Homo sapiens: one gene and its partners. The protein of the gene in region 2 interacts with the protein of the main gene of each other region in a biochemical or structural test. Each region holds a gene or a part of one and is shown on either strand. Other genes may lie near its edges.

Evidence for each region. The genes of interacting proteins can lie anywhere in the genome.
Region 1: the proteins of RAB11B (region 2) and PRKG2 are reported together in a solved structure, tested with the Homo sapiens proteins (one study listed by BioGRID).
Region 3: the proteins of RAB11B (region 2) and EVI5 interact in a biophysical measurement, tested with the Homo sapiens proteins (one study listed by IntAct).

Annotation. Positions count from the first base shown.
Region 1 is NC_000004.12:81,086,705-81,093,222, reverse strand, and holds the end of PRKG2 (cGMP-dependent protein kinase 2), read left to right. Parts: intron 1-770; coding exon 771-837; intron 838-3,419; coding exon 3,420-3,515; 3' UTR 3,516-5,848; downstream 5,849-6,518. UniProt on the Homo sapiens protein: Crucial regulator of intestinal secretion and bone growth. Phosphorylates and activates CFTR on the plasma membrane. Plays a key role in intestinal secretion by regulating cGMP-dependent translocation of CFTR in jejunum.
Region 2 is NC_000019.10:8,385,255-8,393,383, forward strand, and holds the start of RAB11B (ras-related protein Rab-11B), read left to right. Parts: upstream 1-5,105; 5' UTR 5,106-5,162; coding exon 5,163-5,202; exon of another isoform or gene 5,203-5,437; intron 5,438-8,129. UniProt on the Homo sapiens protein: The small GTPases Rab are key regulators of intracellular membrane trafficking, from the formation of transport vesicles to their fusion with membranes.
Region 3 is NC_000001.11:92,781,939-92,789,651, reverse strand, and holds the start of EVI5 (ecotropic viral integration site 5 protein homolog), read left to right. Parts: upstream 1-4,543; 5' UTR 4,544-4,816; exon of another isoform or gene 4,817-5,356; coding exon of another isoform or gene 5,357-5,398; intron 5,399-7,713. UniProt on the Homo sapiens protein: Functions as a regulator of cell cycle progression by stabilizing the FBXO5 protein and promoting cyclin-A accumulation during interphase. May play a role in cytokinesis.

The sequences.
Region 1 (6,518 bases), on a different chromosome or scaffold from region 2:
GGCCTTAAAGTGGGAACAACCCTAGTTGGTTAGGAGAATAGTGAGAAGATAAATGAGTTAAGGGAGAAAGAAAGAGAAAAGTAATACAGTGGTAAGGTAATGGAAGGATGGTGGTAGAAACAATGATTCTATAAAGCCTTATAGGTTACAGCAAAGACATGGAACAGACTTTGCCTTTTACACTGAGTAAGATGGAAAAGGTGGGGAAGTATTGAACCGAGGCATGTTGTGACCTGACTTATGCTATAAACGACCAGTCTTGCTGCTAAGTTATCTCCAGCACAAAAGTACGGCTGGTTCCTTGCTAGTAGAGTGAAGGTATTGAAGACTGGCCAGATACTGAATATAGATAGAATGTGAAGCTAGCACTGACAGGATTTGATCATGGACTCAGATAGGATATAAGGCAAAGAACAACTACAAGAGCTTTGGTTTGAGCAACTGGAAGAATTGAGATGAGGTTGGTGGAGAACATTTTAAGCTTCTGTTCAGACATGATACATGCCAGATGCCTATTAGACATCTAATAGTGAGAAGATGAATAAGAATTGTAGACCTTAGCCTGTAAGCTGATGGAGGGGTCTTGGTTGGAAATAGAAATTTGGGAATAATTAGCATATAAGTGCTATTTAAAGCCATGACAGATAACTTGACATGCTAATAGTTTATCATCCAAGTAATATTCCTTTTTGTCGTCTCTTTCTTTCTCCCTTCCTTCCTTCCTTCCTTCCTTCCTTCCTTCCTTCCTTCCTTCCTTTCTCATTTCTCAGGTGGTTAAATGGTTTTAATTGGGAGGGACTGAAAGCACGGAGCCTTCCATCACCTTTGCAAAGAGAGGTATTGTATTTATTATATTACTTTTTTATTTTTTTCCCAGGGATTTGTTTTTGTACACAGATTTTAGATGTGTGTATGTATATGCCCATAACAGATTTTGGGTGTTTTTTTTTAAAGCAGTTTTTATTTTAATTTAAGTGAGTTTGTCTTATAATTGTGATTATAGGGACTAAATAGTACTGCCTAGCTGATGGATATTAACTTACCTGTCAAGAACCAAATACATGTCAGTGCCACTTAAGTCCCAAAGTAGTCAGTGTTGTTCAGGCTGACAAATGACTGTATAAATTTGATGTGAACAATGTATGTAACTTAAGATTTTCTAATAGCCATTTTAAAAAGGTGAAAAAAAAGGTGAAAATAATTTTAATTATCATAATACCTCCAAAATATTATTTCAATATGTAATCAATATAAAATATTAGTGAGATAGGTTATGTTTATTTTTCCATAATAAATTTTCTAAATCCCAAGTGAATTTTACTGTTACAGCACATCTCAGTTCAGAAGAGCGACATTTCAAGTGCTCAGTCACTTCGTGTTGCTAATGGTTTTGTTATTGGATAGTGCAGCTCTAGAGGCAGCAGAACTTCAGCTAACATGGGAGGAAGAATGACTCAGGAATGATCTAGGTCAACATACTACTAAGTTTATGTTAGTGTTTTTTCCAAAAGATTGCAAAGATCTATATTTCCTCTTATACATTGGTAGATTGCTATCTGACTTTTTTTCATCAAAGTGTAGTTGTGGAGAATATGATTTCCAGTATGTTGTAAATATTGACATTTTAAAATAAAACACTAGGCCAGGCATGGTGGCTCACGCCTGTAATCCTAGCACTTTAGGAGGCCGAGGCGGGCGGATCACGAGGTCAGGAGATCGAGACCATCCTGGCTAACATGGTGAAACCCTGTCTCTACTAAAAATAAAAAAAAATTAGCCGGGCATGGTGGCGGGCACCTGTCATCCCAGCTACTCAGGAGGCTGAGGCAGGAGAATGGCGTGAACTCAGGAGGTGGAGCTTGCAGTGAGCCGAGATCACGCCACTGCACTCCAGCCTGGATGACAGAGCAAGACTCCGTCTCAAAAAATAATAATAATAATAATAATAAAAACACTACTGTTACTTCATTCCTTTAAACATGTCTACTATAATCTAAATACCATTGAGATTTAATACCTATCTGCCACTTATAAAGTTTGGGCAGAAATATTGTATCACTCCTTTTCATCATATCATCATATTTTCATTCTATGTTCCCTATAAGATTTCATCCTAATGTAAAATGCTTCTATGCTTGACAATCTTTCTTGATCATTCTTTAAATGCCTTCGAATTTTAGATTTAAAATTTGTGATAACACCAGTATTTCTTCTGAATTCTGTTATAATTACATTTTTATGGCATGCAGTGTCAAATGGCATAAATATATTATGAATATCTAATGGTAATTATTAAATAAACATTTTTTGAGAAGAAATTATTTCATGTATCTATGGATAGATATTATTTATTAGAAGAATGGGATCAGATTCAGCATCAATTCTATTCCTTTTTAAAATGATTGTTATGCAGATACAAATTCTAAGAATTGTGTTCTCACATATATAAGTGGGAATGGAAGGTTTTATTACAGCGATGTCACTTTGAGCTCCTTCTGAATGATCTCTAGCTCTGTTCCTCCACCACATTATGATCTATCATAAATAATATTTTTAATGATTTTTCAGCTGATCATTCAGTTAGGCATTACTTACATTTGTTTGAAAGCAGAGTTAGAAATCATTTTATTTGTGAAATAATTTAATACCAGCATAATTTCACTCTCTCAACAGGGTCACTAATATTTTGAATTGTTCCTTTTTTGGCATTCTGAATACTTTATATGGATCAATTAACCATAAAAATTTCAGGATTGGTGAGAAACTTATATAATGGAAGAAGAACGCTAGCAGATTTTGATTTTAAAAGAGTTTTCAATTAAAAAAATAAATAGACATCATTTCTGTCACTTATTTTTTTTTTTTGAGAGAAAGTCTCACTCTGTTACCCAGGCTGGAGTGCAGTGGTGTGATCTCAGCTCACTGCAACCTTCACCTCTCAGGTTCAAGTGATTCTCCTGCCTCAGCCTCCAAAGTAGATGGGATCACAGGTGTGTGCCACCATGCCAAACTAATTTTTGTATTTTTAATAGAGATGGAGTTTCACCACATTGGCCAGGCTGGTCTCGAACTCCTGACTTCAGGTGATCTGCTTGTCTTGGCCTCCCAAAGTGCTGGGATTACAGGCGTGAGCCACAGCGCCTGGCCTATTTCTGAACTTTTTCTTTAGGAAAACTCTTCATGCCAGGTAGTTACTATTGAATGTTATCTGGTGACCAAATCTATTTGGTTGTAAAGAGAAGATCTCATGAGGCTGAGACTAGGACTCAAGAATGATAATTGGTCATTTTTTTCTTGTATGTAACTTCCAAGTGGCTGCAGTATGAAATCAGTGTTCTGAAATAAAAAACATTACCCATATGTGATAGCATGCTTGGTCAACATTATTCTTCCTTTTGTTTTAATTATTTCTATATTAGCTCAAGGGACCCATAGATCACAGCTACTTTGACAAATATCCTCCTGAAAAGGGAATGCCTCCAGATGAGCTATCAGGCTGGGATAAAGACTTCTGACAGAAGAAAAGTTGATTACTGCCTGTACTCTACAGAAGAGGACCTCAAGGATCAATAATCCAACACATTATTTTCTTTTCAGAGTATTATAATATCTTTGGAAGACCATTAGGGAAAAGAAATTCCTGCACAATGGGAAGAGGAGAATGGTGTGGATATGGTTCTGAGTTATAGTGTCTTATTTAGATGCTGTGAATTATTGATGTATTACATTATTTGCTTTTCTCAACTGCTAGAGGCTACCCCATTTTCCTTTCCACAATCAGAGCCATTTTTGTTAAAGTGGCAGTTTTTTCTGCAATCTATTGTTCCATTCCAATCATATCCTTCTCGTTTGAGTACTACTAACGTTTAAAAAGGGTCTTGCCCTTGAATAACTAAGTCATACAAATAGAAGGAAAAACAATGGTGAATTTTGGAGAGCTCCCCAGCTCTCAGCAACTTCATATAAGCATGGTGGTATCTTAAAATGGTGGTTTGCAGAAACCATGGTAGCCAACAGAACCTCCTGACTTTCACCTGCTTTTAACCTGAAAATATATTAATACGCCTCTGACATGAGTCCAGGGAGAGGCAAGATTGAGCAATAGTCAGTGGCACCATTTCCTAAAGTAACTGAATCAATCAATCCAGTCAGGTAATTATTTTCTATTGGGGAACTTAGAAAAAAAAGTAAAGCAAGAAATATTTTCTCTCCTTTATGATCAGTGATACCTTAGAGACTTTTCGAAAGTCCTTGTTAAAGATAGTTACAATGTGTGGTTAAATGATGCTAAAATATTTTCACAACCAGAGTAGAAAACGTGCTGGAACAAAATTGCGAAGGCTTTTGCCTCCCAGTAAATAGAAAGGAAAATATATTCTAGTAGGTAAGACTGCTGACTCTTTGAAAATCTGAGGTATTTTGAAAAATTCTGTGATAGTTGCTATTAATAAACCAAAATTGTATAGAATCATCGTTAATTTTTAATATAAATCCCATTGACAAATGTTGATGCACTGTAGTCACTGCTGAGTTAATAGCGCTTTTTAAAGACATCTGAGTCATGGATGTGTTTATAAATTTAGATTGTTAAGACAGGCAAGCCACCAGAAAAGTGATAGGATTTCAGAAGTAAAAGGGACAACAGCATCCCTCCTATCCCTTCCTTGCACTCTCCCAAATAATAAGTAGGATAGTTTCAATAGCATGGGACCTAGTACCTAAGAACTTCACTGGTGAATGGTTGTATGTATTGACCATGATCATTCCCTTACCCTCCTTCCAAAATGAATGAGAAGCAGAGACTTTTCTGTATTTTTTAAATCTAGCAGAGTAAAAATACTGTATAAGTTCCGGGATTATTCAAGCTTCTGGTTATATTTTCATATGTTAATGTTCTATGTCAAAAGGAACCTCTACCCAGTCCCCACTCATAATTTCATCATCCAGAAAAAAGCCAGCTATATGCTTCCTTAATGAGTTAAGCTAGATAAGTGAAGCCCAATCCAGAAAGGTGCATCCTTAACAAATTAGATTTCCACATTTATAATCCTTTTGCTGAACCAAAGAGTTTTTGTTTCCTGGAGCTGTATTTTTAAAGATTATGTATTGTACATAGAATAATCATTTTTAATAGGATTGACATAACCTGCTTAAAGAATTTCTAAGAGTTTTTAAAGATTTTTATTTGAATTTGGTTGGTTTGTACTGTATGTTTTTCCATGTATATATTTTTAAATTTCCAACCTATAAAGATAGAAAATTTATGTATTGGGTGGATATTAGAACTATACAGTTATAATAGGAATGATATTCTCAAAGCAGATCAATAGTTGTAATTTTTAAAACCCTACATATATAGAAATAACCAAGTTAGAGTACTACAGGTTTATTTTTCCTGTGATTGACCATGTCAATGTGTTATCCTCCCATGTGATTTTTTATTGTTTCCTTAGAGTACTTTAAAAGATGAAGAAATGAGAGACTGAACCATTGAATAATCCCAACTCCACCATTTCCTAACTGAGTGACTCTGGGAAAGTGATTTAGCTTTTTTGAGTACTAGCTTTCTCATTCATAGAAAAAGGCAGAGTAAAGTAATATTTACTTAGAGGTTTGTTTCAGGGATTAAGTTATGTAGAGAGTCTTTTGCCCGGTATCTGTGAAATAACCATTGCTGCATAGACGGGAGCTACTGTTACTGTCTCTATTAAAATTAAAGGGGCCTTAATAACCATTTAGTCCTGAATCTTATGTATCATTGGTATCTGTATGCAGAATTGTACTTATCAAATCCAGTATCTGTCTTTTTTTTCTTTTAAATCATGAAGTAAAAATGATTGACCAAAAACTTCGGTGTATGAGATGAAGGGTTAACCTTCACTAAAGTGAAGTGCTTCGTTAAGTTAACCTAAATTTTAATTTTTATGAATTAAAGATACACACATACAGGGAAATATGGAAAATTACCCTCATATATGCATACCTATCATTTTCCTAATCATTAAATCATTCCCAATCTCTCTAGTTAGGATGTAAACTTAATTTTTCATCCTTGAGCTTCTTCCAAGTGGGACCAACTTTTCATAATTATAGGTTCTTAATGCCTTCTTTAAATATAAACACATCTGAAGAAAAGACAGTGTAGTAGTGAAAAGTAAGAGATTTAGAGAAGAACAAGAAAAAAAAAAAACCTGGGCTTGAATTCCAGCTCTGCCCAGATTTGTGTAACCTTGAACATTAAACCTCAGCTTTACTCTTCTGGAACTTGGAGATATACATTTAAAGCTTTGAAATCTTGCGCCAGAATATTATTACTAGTAGGTCATTCGTAATAAACATTTGAAAATAAGTATATATCTATATTTCTTTGGGCACAATAACAAATCCTTGTTCTTTATTGCTAGGCATTGTACTAGGAGTATTTATATCTATTAAGTCATTCACACAAGATACTAAAATAATTATAAATACACAGATAGTTGACTTTATTCAAAATTTTTTTATTTATTGGCCTTAAA
Region 2 (8,129 bases):
CATACAAAGGTCTGACCAGATCTAGGAGGAACTCCCTTCAGGACAGGATGATAGATGGTTCCTCCCAGGCGATTAAGGGAAAAAGACACAATGGGTATTCAGTAAGTGATAAGGAAACTCTTGTAGATGCAGAGTTAGGAAAATTGCCTAATAATTGGTCTGCTCAAACATGCCAGTTGTTTCCACTCAGCCAAATCTTAAAGTACTTACAGAATCAGGAAGCAGCCATCTATACCAATTCTAAGTTAATATGGACTGAACAAGGTCTTACTAATAGCAAAGAATAATTGAAATCCCAAACTTACAAGGTTTTCAACAAAAGTAAAGTTTGCTAAAAAAGTTAACAGTGTAACATGTATTATCCTAACTTCTAATCTTATGGAAATCAGACCGTATCTGTGCCCCTCAAAGCTCAAGTCTATCAGCGCAGGGCCATACAACTAATATCCCTACTTATAGGGTTAGGAATGGCTACTGCTACAGGAACCGGAATAGCCAGTTTATCCACTTCATTATTCTACTACCATACACCTTCAAAGGATTTCTCAGACAGTTTGTAAGAAATAACAAAATCTATCCTTACTCTACAATCCCAAATATACTCTTTGGCAGCAGCAACTCTCCAAAACCACTGAGGCCTAGACCTCCTCACTGCTGAGAAAGGAGGACTCTGCACCTTCTTAGGGGAAGAGTGTTGTTTTTACACTAAACAGTCAGGGATAGCACGAGATGCCACCTGGCATTTACAGGAAAAGGCTTCTGAAATCAGACAATGCCTTTCGAACTCTAATACCAACCTCTGGAGTTGGGCAACATGGCTTCTCCCCTAGGTCCTGTGGCAGCCATCTTGCTCTTACTCACCTTTGGGCCCTGCATTTTTAACCTTCTTGTCAAATTTGTTTCTTCTAGAATCGAGGCCATCAAGCTACAGATGGTCTTAAAAATGGAACCCCAAATGAGTTCAACTAACAACTTCTACTGAGGACCCCTGGACCGACCCACTGGCCCTTCCACTGGCCTAAAGAGTTCCCCTCTGGAGGACACTACAATTGCAGGGCCCCTTCTTCCAGCAGGAAGTAGCTAGAGTGGTCATCGGCCAAATTCCCAACAGCAGTTGGGGTGTTCTGTTTAGAGGGGTGATTGAGAGGTGAAGCCGGCTGGGCTTCTTGGTTGAGTAGGGACTTGGAGAACTTTTCTGTCTAGCTAAAGGATTGCAAATGCACCAATCAGCGCTCTGTGTCTAGCTAAAGGTTTGTAAATGCACCAATCAGCGCTCTGTGTCTAACTAATCGCGTAGGGGACTTAGAGAACTTTCCTGTCTAGCTAAAGGATTGTAAATGCACCAATCAGCACTCTGTGTCTAGCTAAAGGTTTGTAAATGCACCAATCAGCACTCTGTCAAAACGGACCAATCAGCACTCTGTAAAACGGACCAATCAGCACTCTGTAAAGTGGACCAATCAGCTCTCTGTAAAATGGACCAATCAGCAGGATGTAGGTGGGGCCAAATAAGGGAATAAAAGCAGGACACCGCAGCCAGCAGCGGCAACGTGCTTGGGTCCCCTTCCATGCTGTGGAAACTTTGTTCTTTCACTCTTCCCAGTAAATCCTGCTGCTGCTCACTCTTTGGGTGCGCACTGCCTTTATGAGCTGTAACACTCACCGCAAAGGTCTGCAGTTTCACTCCTGAAGTCAGCGAGACCAAAAGCCCACCAGAAGCAAGAAACTCTAGACATGTCTGAATATCAGAAGGAACAAACTCTGGACACACCATCTTTCAGAACCGTAACACTCACCGGAGGGTCTGTGGCTTCATTCTTGGAGTCAGCAAGACCAAGAACCCACCAATCTGGACACAGGATGTGTTATACAAAACTTATAGGAGGCTATTACTTTGGACTGACTTCCTACACCAGGCCCAACAAACTAAACCAAAATGGAGTCACTCATGCTAAAGTTTTACGTGATCAAAAAGAAACTAAGTTGTTTATCTGACCTTCTACAAAATCAGGAGAGAGAGAGATGGGATAGCCAAGTCTCCCACCAGGTCAGTTTTAGCCATCATGATAAGGATGTCCTCTCTGCTTTAACCTTTACAAGAAAAGTAACTTTGGGCTGAGTGCGGTGGTGGCTCATGCCTGTAATCCCAGCACTTTGGGAGGCCAAGGCAGGAGGATTGCTTGAGTTCAGGAGTTCAAATCCAGCCTGGCCAACAAGGCAAGACCCTGTCTCTGGAAAAAAAAAATTAGCTGGGCATGGTGGCACACACCTGTGATCCTAGCTCCTCAGGAGGCTGAGGTGGGAAGATTGCTTGATCCCAGGAAGTTGAGGTTGCAGTGAGCTATGATCGCACCACTGCACTCCAGCCTGGGTGACAGAGCAAGACTCAGACTCCAAAAGGAAACTTTAAAATGACCAATCCAAGTTTTCTTTTCTTTTTTTCTTTTTTTTTGAGTCGGAGTTTTGCTCTGCTCTCCCAGGCTGGAGTGCAATGGTGTGATCTTCGCTCACTGCAACCTCCGCCTCCCTGGTTCAAGTGATTCTCCTGCCTCAACCTCCTGAGTAGCTGGGATTACAGGCACCTGCCACCGCGCCCGGCTAATATTTTTGTATTGTTAGTAGAGATAGGGTTTCATCATCATTATCATGTTGGTCAAGCTGGTCTCGAACTCCTGACCTCGGGTGATCTGCCTGCCTCGGCCTCCAAAGTGCTGGGATTACAGGCATGAGCCACTGCACCTGACCTCCACGTTTTATTTTCTGTTTGTGCTTTACTTGGCCCTTTTTCTGCCTGTAAAACCAACCTACCTGCTCAGCTCATGGGAAAATTAGTTTCATTTTGTGAAATGAAGTGTTGCCCGATTGTAGAATTGCAAATAAAATCAATTAAGATCTTTAAACTAAATGTGTTGTAATTTTGTTTTTTTGACAGATGCCCAATGAACACCCTGGGAATGAGATCCAAGAGGCGATAATGGCATCTGCTCTAATAACTAGTACATTGACTCTAGGCTTAGATTATTCACCACTGAATAAATAAACGTATTTATTCAGCAGTGGGGAACTTACAGCAATGATGGGGACAGATACAGTCCCTGATGTCATCAGGCTGATATGCTGCTGACAGAGGACAAAAAACAAACAGATCAATGGGTCAGGAAAGCAAGGCTTTTTTTTTTTTGAGACAGGGTCTTGCTCTGTTACCCAAGCTGGAGTGCAGTGGGGTGATCATGGCTCACTGCAGCCTCGATTTCCCAGGCTCGAATGATCCTCCCGCCTTGGCCTCCCAAGTATCTGGGACCCTGGCATGATGCACCACATCTGGCTAATTTTTGTTGTTGTTCTTTTCTTTTTTTTCCTTTTCTCTTTTTTTTCCTTTTTTTCTTTTTTTTTTTTTTTTTTTGAGAGACTGGGTTTTGACATGTTGCCTAGGCTGGTCTCTAGCTCCTGGCCTCAAGTGATCCTCCCACCTCAGCCTCCTCAAAGGGCATGTTTTTAGGCATAAGCCACCGCAGCCAGCCAAAACAAACAAACAAAAAGTAACGTATACTTTGTGTTAATAATTTTGCATAGTATATTGAAAATTTGCCAAGAAAGTACATTTTAGATACTCTCACTACACACACAGTTAATTATGGAAGGCAATGGATAGGTTAATTGCTTAACTCTCATAATTGGCCATGTGTGGTGAAAATGCCTGTAATCCCAGCACTTTGGGAGGCCAAGGTGGGCGAATCACCTGAGGTCAGGAGTTCGAGATCAGCCTGACCAACATGGAGAAACCCCGTCTCTACTAAAAATACAAAAAAATTAGCCAAGCATGGTGGTGCATGCCTGTAATCCCAGCTATTCGGGAGGCTGAGGCATGAGAATCGCTTGAACCCGGGAGGCAGAGGCTGCAGTGAGCCGAGAGCACACCATTGCACTTCAGCCTGGGCAACGACAGCAAAACTCCGTCTCAAAAAAAAAAAAAAAAACTGTCATAATTATTATTTCACTGGGTACATGTGTATCAAAACACACGCTGTACACCCTAAATATATAAAACAAACACATACTGTATTGTCAGGTAGTGATAAATCCTATCACTACCTGACAATACAGCAGTATGTGTTTTATTTTCTATATTACCTATTTTTATATTTTACCTATGTGGCAAAATATAGGACAAAAGAGGGGTAGTGGTAGGAGGTCCTGTTGGAGAGCATTGGTATCCAGTAAGGATTTAAAAGTATTTATTTAACAAAGAATAGCAGAAAGTGGACGGTTGATTCACACTTGGTGCAATCTCGGCTCACTGCAACCTCCACCTCCCAGGTTCAAGCGATTCTCCTGCCTCAACCTCCTGAGTAGCTGGGTTTACAGGCACCAGCGACCACGCCCGACTAATTTTTGTATTTTTAGTAGAAACGGGGTTTCACCATGTTGGTCAGGCTGGTCTCGAACTCCTGACCTCGTGATCCGCCAGCCTCGGCCTCCCAAAGTCCTGGAATTACAGGCGTGAGCCACCGCGCCTGGCTGATCTGGTTATTTTCAAAAGATTCCATGAGACGGGTTTCTTCAGTTTACAGAGGAGGAAACTGAGGCACAGAAGGATAACCCAGTGAGTCCCAATATAGAGATGGAGACTGCAACCGAGAAAGGGGACCCAGCGCTGAGGTCCCCGGAAATGGTCATTTATGGGCTTGGGGGGCGACCAGGGCAGCGCGCGCTGACCTATGACGTCATCGGGACGTTAAGCATCGTAGCATTACCTGGACGTAGCCCCATTTCTCTTCCCGGACAGGTCCTCTGATAGTCGGGTAGGTTCTCAATCAAGCCTCTCATTAGTTATTTGGTCTGTCAATCCATTTCATTCCTGCAGTCTTCCGCCCCGCCCTCTTGAGCTCGCCCCTGATAGGCTGGCGCGTCCGTCACTTCAAAAAGGTCCGCATTCCTTCCGCCTTTCTCCAGGACACCGAGGGCGAGGAGGGTGGTACCAAGCGGCGCCCACCCTCAGAGCACTACTTCCATCTCTGATTGGCTTCGCTGGGTGCCCGTCGCTACTCCACTCGCCGCTGATAGGCCATTCAACCGCCGCTCTGCGCGGCGCCGGCTCCGCCCCCGTCGGGTGTTTGTGGTGGGGCTGCGGAGTCGCCGATCCCGCCGGAAGCGCCAGGACAATGGGGACCCGGGACGACGAGTACGACTACCTATTCAAAGGTGCGGCCGGTGGGGCACAGACGGGCGAAGTCGTGGCGGCGAGGCGGCGGGCAGACGGGCCAAGGCCGCGCTCCAGGCCGCTGGGCCCAGGCCGGAGCCCGGGGCTTGGGGCCCGGCGGGTCAGGCAGCCGGGAAGGCCGGAGCCGACCGGGCAGCATCAGCTTCGGGCTAGGATGCGCGGCTATACGGAGCCGGAGGCCCGGAGAGACCTGGGGGACCTAGGACGCGCCGGGGCGGGGCCAGAGCCTAGAGGGGGTGGGGCCCGGAGCGGTGGGAGAGGCTGTTAGGGCGGGGCCTCCGCAGGGGGTGGAGCTTTCCCAAGATTTGGCGGGCCGGGCTGGGCTGAAAGCGTGATTCGGGATGGGGGCGGGGTTTTTAGGGGCGGGGCTAAGGCGTGATGGGCGTGACCAATAGGTGGGTTGGGCCTGGGCAAACGGAGGCGGGGCTCTCACGAGGCTTGTCCTGATTGGGGCAGCGTGTTTGGGGGTGGGGCCCGGGAGAGGCGGGGCAGGCAATGGGGGCTGGGCCGAGATGAGGGCCTGGGGGTGAGGTGTGTGGTGGTGGGAGCCTTGGATTGGGGTGCAAAGCTGGGATTGAGTGGAAAGGCACCCGTGTGTGCAGCAAGAATTCCATCTCTTCACTCAGAACTCTCAACAGTGCTAAGCCAGTACTTGCACTTTTCTGAGCACTTTACCCGAATTAACTAAAATCCTCACTGCAGCCCTTTGAGGTTGATACTAACCAGCCTCTCTTTTTACACGTTGGGAAACTGAGGCCCAGAGTGACAAAGACACAGTTTATAAGTGTTGGAACCCGATTGAGCCCAGGCCACCTGTAGGCCTTACCACTTAGGAAGCGTGTCTTAGGGGGCTTGTGGCCAGCATCTGGGACTTTGGGTTGTTGGACCAACTTCTTCCAACACGTGCGCACTGATGGCCGGGGCCCCAGCCAGCCTGCTGGAGGGTCTTCCCCGCCCGAGGGACTGAGGGGGCTCTAGGAGCATCACATAAGGCCTAGGTAGATCAGGCAGCCATTGCCCATTTAGGGACAGCTGGAGGAAGCCGGAGTCCCTTGTTTCTCAGCTGAGCCTTCTGTGCCCAGCTACACTTTGGCCTAGTGGTCTGCCCTGGTTGCTGGGCTCCCTGGCTGACAATGGCAGCCCTTGAGGGCTAACCCCTGGATCCAAGGTGCCTTCACCCTGCGGCCTGCTCTATGAGGGCCTGCGTCGCACATCAGCTGTTGGTATCCTCACCTCGCTGAGCCGTTCCTCCGAGTGTGCTCTGTGGCTTGCACCAGGCCTAGCTGGGCCTTGTGTCTGGTCTCATCCAGCGTCTTCTGATTGTGGGGAATGAGGCAGAGGTCTCCCCACCTGGGCTGTCCGTGTGGCGAAAGCCTTCCGGGGGGAGGGAGAGGAAGTGCCTCTACAAGGGCCTAGAGTCGTCCTGTGGCACTGAGGGCTCTGGCAGCTGCACACAGGTTGATAATGTCACTGGTGGGTGAGGCTCTGTGGTCAGCAGGTGCCCGGCCCAAGGTCTCGCCCCTCGTGGCAGGAGGAAGCTTTGGAAGGGTTTTGGAGACTGGGATTCTAAGGGGCCGTCTGGAGACAGGGGGACTAAACTTTGGGTCCTGCTGATCGGGTGCCATCTCCACTCAGCCCACCGTGAGGCAGCTGCTCCCAGGTCCTGGCTGGGCACCCACCCAGACGTGGCACTGCCAGGGCAGGGGTGTTGCTCCCCACATGCCCCATCCAGGTTTCTGTGGTTATCCCCTGCTTGTTATTTTTGCCCTTTTGCTGTGTTAAATGACCCAGCTCCGAGTGCTTGCTCAAGTCATGGTTTTGCCCTTTAGATTATTTCCTTGAAGTGCGTTCCCAGCAGAACAGTTACTGGGTCAGGAGCAATGGAGAGGCTGTGTGGTTCCCGGGACTTGTCTGCAGAGACTGCTTCCTGGAAACACTGATTTAGCTTCTGCGGCATCTGGCATTTGGCGGGCAGGCGGTGTGGGGTGGGGGGGGGCGGTGCCTGCCCTGCTGCCCTCCCCACACTGGCCTCCTTTTACTGAGTCTAGCAGGTGCCCTGCTGACCTTCTCAAGCTAGTTGGTAGCAAAAATCTAACCCACAAGTTCAGCTTTTCCCAAACTGGTCATCTGCCGTCTCACCTTCACAGCTGTGCCTCATCAGAGGACCTCCTCTATTCTCTTTCAATATTTTTCTTTTCCTTTTTCTTTTCTTTTTTTTTTTTTTTTTTTTTTGAGACAGAATTTTACTCTAGTCACCCAGCCTGGAGTGCAGTGGCGCAATCTCGGCTCACTGCAGCCTCCGTCTCCCGGGTTCAAACGATTCTCCTGCCTCAGCCTCCCGAGTAGCTGGGATTACAAGCACCCACCACACCCGGCTAATTTTTGTATTTTAGTAGATACGGGGTTTCACCATGTTGGCCAGCTGATCTTGAACTCCTGACCTCAGGTGATCCACCTGTCTCGGCCTCCCAAAGTGCTGGGATTACAGGCATGAGCCACCGTGCCTGGCCTCTGCATTTTTTTTTTTTTTTTTGGTGGCCACATCACGCACTGGCTCCCTTGACTTCAGCGGCCAAGGCCAGCAGATCCCCCGGGTGATGCCCCGTGTGCCATTTGTTTTCCTTCGTGAATGTTCTTTCCTTCCCCCAGGAATGACACTGTTGATTTGTACCTAATTATAGAGCCTCACATTTATCCTCCTAACATTTTCTCCTTTAGCCATGGGCCATTTTCATAGCCTGCCACTAATTGCCGTGGGACCCCAGATTTCTTTTCTGATGGACTCGGTACTCCATGGTTGCAGCTGTGTCCCCAAGGGCCACTGAGGTCCTCTCAGAGCCCTTCCCCTACCCTAGAGGCCCTGGCCAATCAGGGCTCACCTGGCCCTGGAGGACATGGGTCGTGGGGG
Region 3 (7,713 bases), on a different chromosome or scaffold from region 2:
AGAAAACTTTGAATTGCTCACTGAATTTACCGCAAATAAAACTATCTGAAGGCCAGGCGCGGTGGTTCATGCCTGTAATCTCAGCACTTTGGGAGGCTGAGGTGGGCGGATCACAAGGTCAGGAGATTGAGACCGTCCTGGCTAACATGGTGAAACCCCGTTTCTACTAAAAATACAAAAAATTAGCCAGGTGTGGTGGCAGGCGCCTGTAGTCCCAGCTGCTCGGGAGGCTGAGGCAGGAGAATGGCGTGAACCCAGGAGGCAGAGCTTGCAGTGAGTCAAGATCTTGCCACTGCACTCCAGCCTGGGCGACGGAGCGAGAAAAAAAAAAGAAGAAGAAGCTGAGGCAGGAGGATGGCTTGAATTCAGGAGTCCAAGTCCAGCCTGAGCAACATAGTGAGACCCAGTCTTTTAAATTAATAAAATAAAATGAAACCACAAACCTCAAACAAACAAAAAGACAAAACAGGATTTCAATCATTGTGAAGCTCTCGATCTAGTAGATGAGTAATGTATATAAACCAAAATATTACAATTTCAGAGAAGTGCTACAGGGCCTAATGTTTAACCACTTCTGGCATTCAACTGACTGTGTTAAAAACTCTGCCACCACTTTCCAGGGGTATAAATTGAGGTAAGTTATTTGGTATTTATTAAATTTCAGCTTCTTCATATGCAAGGGGGTTATGATAATAATACCTACCCCATGAGGACAATATGAGGATTAAACGAAATAGTGTATGTATACAGCCTTAGCCAATACCCATACATGTTGAGTGCTCAACCAGGTGTTAGCTATTAGATTTTAAAATTTTATTTAATTTTTATGGGGTTTTTTTTGTTGTTGTTGTTGCTGTTGAGACAGAGTCTTGCTCTGTTGCCCAGGCTGGAGAGCAGTGGCGCGATCTCGGCTCACTGCAAGCTCCACCTCTTGGGTTCAAGCAGTTCTCCTGCCTCAGCCTCCCGAGCAGCTGGGACTACAGGCACACACCACCACGCCCAGCTAATTTCTGTATTTTTAGTAGAGATGGGGTTTCACCATGTTGGCCAGGTTGGTCTTGAACTCCCGACCTTGTGATCCACCACCTCGGCCTCCCAAAGTGCTGGGATTACAGGCATGAGCCATCATGTCCTGCCTAGTTTTTTTTTTGTTTTGTTTTGTTTTGTTTTGTTTTTGAGATGGAGTCTCTCACTCTGTCACCTAGGCTGGAGTGCAATGGTGCAATCTCGGCTCACTGCAACCTCCGCCCCCCGGGTTCAAGTGATTCTCCTGTCTCAGTCTCCCGAGTAGCTGAGATTACAGGCACACGCCACCATGCCCGGCTAATTTTTTTTTTGTATTTCAGTAGAGATGGGGTTTCACTGTGTTGTCCAGGCTGGTCTTGAACTCTTCCGCTCGGGCAATCCACCCACCTTGGCCTCCCAAAGTGCTAGGATTACAGGTGTGAGCCACTACGCCCGGCCACTATTTTTTATAGTTTTTAAGGTAAAATTTACATTCACTGAAATGTTACCTGCATATTTTTTGATAAGTGAATATACCTATGTAACTCACATCCCTATCAAGATAGAGACCATTTTTACCACCCAGAAATTTCACTCATGTACCATCCCAGTCAATCCCCTGCCACAGGGAACCACTGTTATGATTTTTTTTCACCACAGATTAATTTTCTTTTCTAGAATTTCAAATAAATGGAACAGTATGACACTCTTTTGTGTCATTTATTTATCTTCACATAGATAATTCACATACTTTGTGTCATTTATCTTCACATAGATAATTCACATACTTTAAGATAAAAAAGGTACAATTTTAAACCTTTTGGGCATGCAGTAAAAATCTCCTTCCCACTGGTACCCACCAGTCACCCAGTCTTCCTCTCTCTTTCTCTCTCTTTTTTTTTTTTTTGAGACAAGATCTTTCTCTGTCGCCCAGGCTGGAGTGCAGTGGCACGATCATGGCTCACTTCGGCCTCACCCTTCCAGGCTCAAGCAATCCTCCTGCCTCAGGCTCCCAAGTAGCAGGACTACAGGTGCCTACCACCACACCTGTCTAAATTTTTTTTTGTATTTTTTTTTTGTAAAGATAGGGTTTTGCCATATTGCTCAGGCTAGTCTTAAACTCCTGATCTTAAATGATCCGCCGGCCTCAGCCTTCCAAAGTGTTTAGATTATAGGCGTGAGCCACCGTGCTTGGCTCAGTCTTCCTCTCTTGAAGCAATCAATGTTATTAGTTTTATGTGGGCCATCCCATGTCTTATCATTATTAATTCAGGTGCTTACAAAAGGCTCTTTGAGAACTGTTTTAAAGGTTACCCAAAGAATCTTGTGACAACCCAGCTAAAATGATATAAAATCAGTTTTAACATAACTGAAGTTTTTAGATTCTGATTCCAAATGTCAGATGGTGACATTTTACCTTTCTCTGACTTTATGCCAAATTTAGTTTAAGTTTTAGCATCTATAATTTTCATTTACTGAACAAATATATATTTAACAAATATGAAAATACAACCATGAAACAAACAAAATCAAATCCTGGACTTAAGGAGCTAATAGTAAAAAATTCACCAATATAACTACCCAATTACAGTTTCATGCGATGTGAAAGGAGTAAGAGACCACCATAGGGAGGTCAGAAGATGCTTCTCAGAGGTGGATACTAGAGCCGTTGTCAAAGGATGAGGACTGGGAGAACTTTCTGGGCACAGAGCAAAGCATGAGTAAAAGCTCTGTTGAGGCCAGGAAGCCGGTAAATAGGGAATAAAAGAGGCTAGCGTGGCTGGAGCACAGACAGCAGGGTGGAATTGGTCTGAGCAGTGAGAAGAGGTGGAGAGGTGGGCAAGGCACCTGGCCATTCAGGGCTTGGTTAGTTAGGAGGGTTTTTTCTAAGAGAATGGGAAAGTGTTTAAGTGGTTTAGGCTGGGAAGTGACAGGGTCACACTGTTATTTTGAAAAAGTCACTCTGCCTGTTGTGTTGAGATTAGAGAGGGGATAAAGGGAATATGGGTAAACCACAAGAAGACTAGGTCAGTAATCCCTCCACCCCCACTCCCCAGGTGAAGGTAGCCTAGACTAGGGTGGTGATGGAGGAAATAGGAGAGGACAGATTCAAGGACCATTTGTAAGGGAAAAACCAATAGAATTTGCTGACGGATGGAATATAAGAGGGGAGAGGTACATTATCAAGGATGTAGCTTAGTTTTCTTATACAAGGATTGAGTTGCAATAAAATTGTTAATTGAAATTTCTTTAAATAATGGCACAACCTAAAGTTATGCAAACATATGCCTCAGATAAAAGTTCAAGTTTTCAAAGTTTTTAGCTGGGTGGAGGGCATGGCTTTACTTCCTATTTCTTGGTATTTCCTAATCTTGTTGAAAAAAAAGTAAGGTTTTTTTTTTTTTTTTTTTCTGAAATGCTTAGTTCAGTGGAAACCCATCTGCGAATTCTGTCTTATAAATTTAAATTTAAAAATAGGGATACTAATTTCTAGACAAATAATTCCGGAGTTTCTTGTGCTGCTAATTATTATAATTTTTGTCCCTTTTTTTTTTTGAGACAGAGTATCGTTCTGTCGCCCAGGCTGGAGTGCAGTGGCGCGATCTTGGCTCACTGCAACCTCCACCTCCGTGGTTCAAGCAATTCCCCTGCCTCAGCCTCCAGAGTAGCTTGGCTGGGAGTACAGGCGCACGCCACGACGCCGGGCTATTTTTTTTTTTTGTATTTTTAGTAGAGACGGGGTTTCACCATGTTGGCCAGATTGGTCTCCAACTCCTGACCTCAGGCAATCCGCCCGCCTCGGCCTCCCAAAGTGTTGGGATTACAGGTGTGAGCCACCGCGCCCGGCTGTCACTTCTAAACATATAATGAAAGTAATCTGTATTGCCTTTTTACTTTTTCTTGCCTGCTTTTCCTGGACCAGAAATTAATAGGCTGTTTCCGTCCCAAACAAAGTACTTTCCTTCTAAGAATGTCTTCGTTGACGCTGGAGGGCTGCCCGGCTGAATCTTACGTATTCGTGCCCATGTTCTGCCCCCTGCAGTAGTCTGCATAAACCCAATGCGAAGACACGTGTAAGAGTACATTACAATTACAAGTGTCATTTACGCGTTGATTATTGTTTTTGCGAGTGCCCTAAGGCCACCTCTGGGGGAGCTCGGGGCTGCCTTCCGAAGCATGCGCGTCAGCACCGCGTGCCAGGGCCCTGAAAGTCAGGCTCCGCGTCGGTGCGGCAGCGCGAGGCCTGCAGTCCTAAGCTCGGGGTCGCTTCGGGCCCCCGAGGGGGTGTGTCTTCTACCGTTTTAACATGGAAGGGGCGGTTCCAGTGGCCGGGGAAGTCGGCGACTTGCAGGACTGAAGGCTGGTGCTTTGAAAGAGAGGCGGAGGGCGAGAGCGATTTCCCCGCCTCCTCTGCACTCCGTCCAATCCCTTCGCCTTCTCCTTTTCTCGGCCGGCCCGCCCGGCCCCTAACCTGCTCCAACCCATTCTGCGGTAGAGGCTGCCGGGTCTCTTTAAGGCCCTCCCGCGCCTGCGCCTTGGGCTCTCCTGACGCGGCCGGGCCGGACCCCGGAGGAACCAGCTGGCCAGCTGGCAAGGGGCTGGCTGCAGTTCCGACAGCGGCGGTGCCGGGAGGGGTAGGTGAGGGTCGCGAGGCGGCCCTGAGCTTCTGAGTGAGCGTGGTGCTTTTGGGAACTCGGGACGGGCGACCCGTGGAGCCAGGAGCGGGGCCGAGGCGCTGAGACGCGGCGGCGCGGCTGCCGGCTGGATGGGAAGTTAATGTTTACGGCGAAGTCTACTCAACGTTTCCAAGGTGAGGGGCGCTGCGCCAGGCCGGGCGGGCCGGGAGGCCGGGCGGGCGGTGAGTCCGTGTTCCGCTGGCGCACAGCTGGGCCGAGGCGCGGCGGGCGGGGGCCGCCGCAAGTTTTGCTGTGGGAGCGGGGCGGGCGCGCCTGGCCCCGCCAGGGCCTAAGTTCCCTGCACTCGCTTCCTCGCCTGTCGCCGCCGCCGCCGCCCGCAGCCCTCCTTCTCGTGGGCGCTGGGGAAGAAACTCGTCGGCGGGTCTAACTGTGGCGTCCCAGGGCGGTGGAGGGACGGAGCAGCTTCGGGGGCACGTCCTCGTAAATCCCGTGGAGGACACTGACCCTGCACCCCACCCTCGAGGCCAGAAGTCGGTTCCCTTTGGGGACCTGAGGGGCGAGAGCACTCGCCCCCCTGACTTGCAAAGTTGGCGTCTTTACTTGGCCTCCGGGATTCTGCGCATGGCGTGTCTCCAGGCTGCTGATGGGCAAGACAGATGTGCCAGGTCCAGAATGAACTTGAGAAGAGTTTGTAGCCATTCCTGAATCACCTTATGACTAGTGGGGCAAGCCTCAAATTAACCTCAGGATTTCCGGTAGGTTGGATTGTGGTGTTGGTGTTTCCACTCAAAAGAGTTGCTGTGATTTCCCTGTGTCTGTCTGTCTGTCTGTCTTTGGGGCTTCTTAGATCATCTCATTTGGCATCCTTTCACCCAAGAGTTAAACCAAGCCTTTTGGAATGGTTTCCTCGCTTTCCTCCTATCTATTGCTGGTAGAGCTGCTTTCGAAAAGAAGTATTTTCTTGAAGTGGTATCTTTTCTTTGGGTTACAGTGTTGAATAATAAACTCCTTTCTTTGCCGAAAGAATGAATTCCAGTGCTTACTGAAGTTAAAGAAAAGTGATCTGCTGGTAGTTTTTAATCTTTGTTCTGAGCTGATGTAAGTAACTTTTTTTGTTTTAAAATTTTGTTAGTAGAATTTCACCAGTGTACCAGAAGCTCTTTTTCTTTTTCTTTTCTTTTCTTTTTTTTTTTTTTTTTTGACAGGGAGTCTCGCTCTGTCGCCAGACTGGAGTGCAGTGGCGACGTTGGTTCACTGCAACCTCCACCTCCTGCGTTTAAGCAATTCTCCTGCCTCAGCCCCGCGAGTAGCTGGGACTACAGGCGCGCGCCACCACTCCCAGCTAATTTTTGTATTTTTAGTAGAGATGAGGTTTCACCATGTTGGCCACGATGGTCTTGATCTCTTGACCTCGTGTTCCACCCGCCTCAGCCTCCCAAAGTGTTGGGGTTACAGGCGTGAGCCACCGTGCCCGGCCTTCTTTTTCTTTTCTTTTCTTTTCTTTTTTTTTTTTTTTTTTTTTTTTAAGGCTGAGTCTCACTCTGTTGCCTAGGCTGGATATATTCTCCTGCCTCAGCCTCCCGAGTAGCTGGGATTACAGGCGTACATCACCACGCCCGGCTAATTTTTTTTTTTTTGTATTTTTAGTAGAAACGGGGTTTCACCGTGTTGGTCAGGCTGGTCTCGAACTCCTGACCTCAAATGATCTGCCCGCCTCGGCCTTCGAAAGTGCTGGGATTACAGGCGTGAGCCAGCGCACCTGGCCCAGGTGGTCTTTTTTCTGTTCTAAAATGATAACTACGATTTCCGAGAACTTTGTGTCAAATAAATCTTAGAACTAAGTTATTGAAGTATAGAGAAAAAGTTCACAATTCTAAATGTGCAGGTGGTCTGGGTGCGGTGGCTCACGCATGTGATCCTAGCATTTTGGGAGGCAGAGGCAGGTGGATCACTTGAGCCCAGGAGTTTGAGACCAGCCAGGGCAACGTGGCAAAACCCCATTTTCTACTAAAAATACAAAAATTAGCTGGGTGTGGTTGTGTGCGCTGGTAGTCCGAGCTACCCAGGAGGCTGAGGTGGGAGGATCACCAAAGCCGGGGAGGTCGAAGTTGCAGTGAGCCTTGATCATGCCACTGCACTCCAGCCTGAGCGGCAGAGTGAGACCGTCTTTCAAAAAAAACAAAAACAAAAAACATCGCAGGTAATGAATTTTTACTAAGTGAACCACCAAAGATCAAGAAATAGGACATTACTAGATTGGAGTATGTACGTAGGAGTGGCATTGTTGGTTTTATAGGTACGTGGGTGATAAAACTCTAGTATTAGAAATTGTTGAACATTTTCCCAAAGTGGTTCTACCAATTAGCAGGGAATGTTCCGGTTACCCCACATCCTTGCTGGTGCTTGTCAGTTGAAATTTTTTTTGCTAGTCTAGTAGAGGTACAGTAATATATCAGTGTGGTTTCATTTTGCATTTTCCTGGTACTGAGGTTGAGTATCTTTTGTTGACCATTTATATTTCCTCTTGTGAAGTGCCTGTTAAGTCTTTTTGCCCAGTTTTCGTTGATATGCTTATTTTTCTCTCATTTATAATGCTTTATTCTGGATATGAGTCCTTTCTAGGATATATATGTATTGCATTTTTATTTTTTTCAGTCTGTATTTTGCCTTTTCAGTCTTTTAATGGTGTTTTTTTTCATGCCTGGAGATTCTTAATTTGTGTGTGTGTGTGTTTTTTGTTTGTTTGTTTTGTAAGATGGAGTCTCACTCTGTTGCCAGGCTAGAGTGCAGTGGCGCGATCTCGGCTCACTGCACCCTCGCCTCCCGGGTTCAAGCAATTCTCCTGCCTCAGCCTACTGAGTAGCTGGGACTATAGGTGTGTGCCACCATGCCCGGCTAATTTTTGTATTTTTAGTAGAGACAGGGCTTCACCATGTTGGCCAGGGTGGTCTTGATTTCTTGACCTCATGATCCATCCACCTCGGCCTCCTAAAGTGCTGGGATTACAGGTGTGAGCCACCGTGCCTGGCCTTTTTTTTTTTTTTTTTTTTTTTTGAGACAGAATCTCACT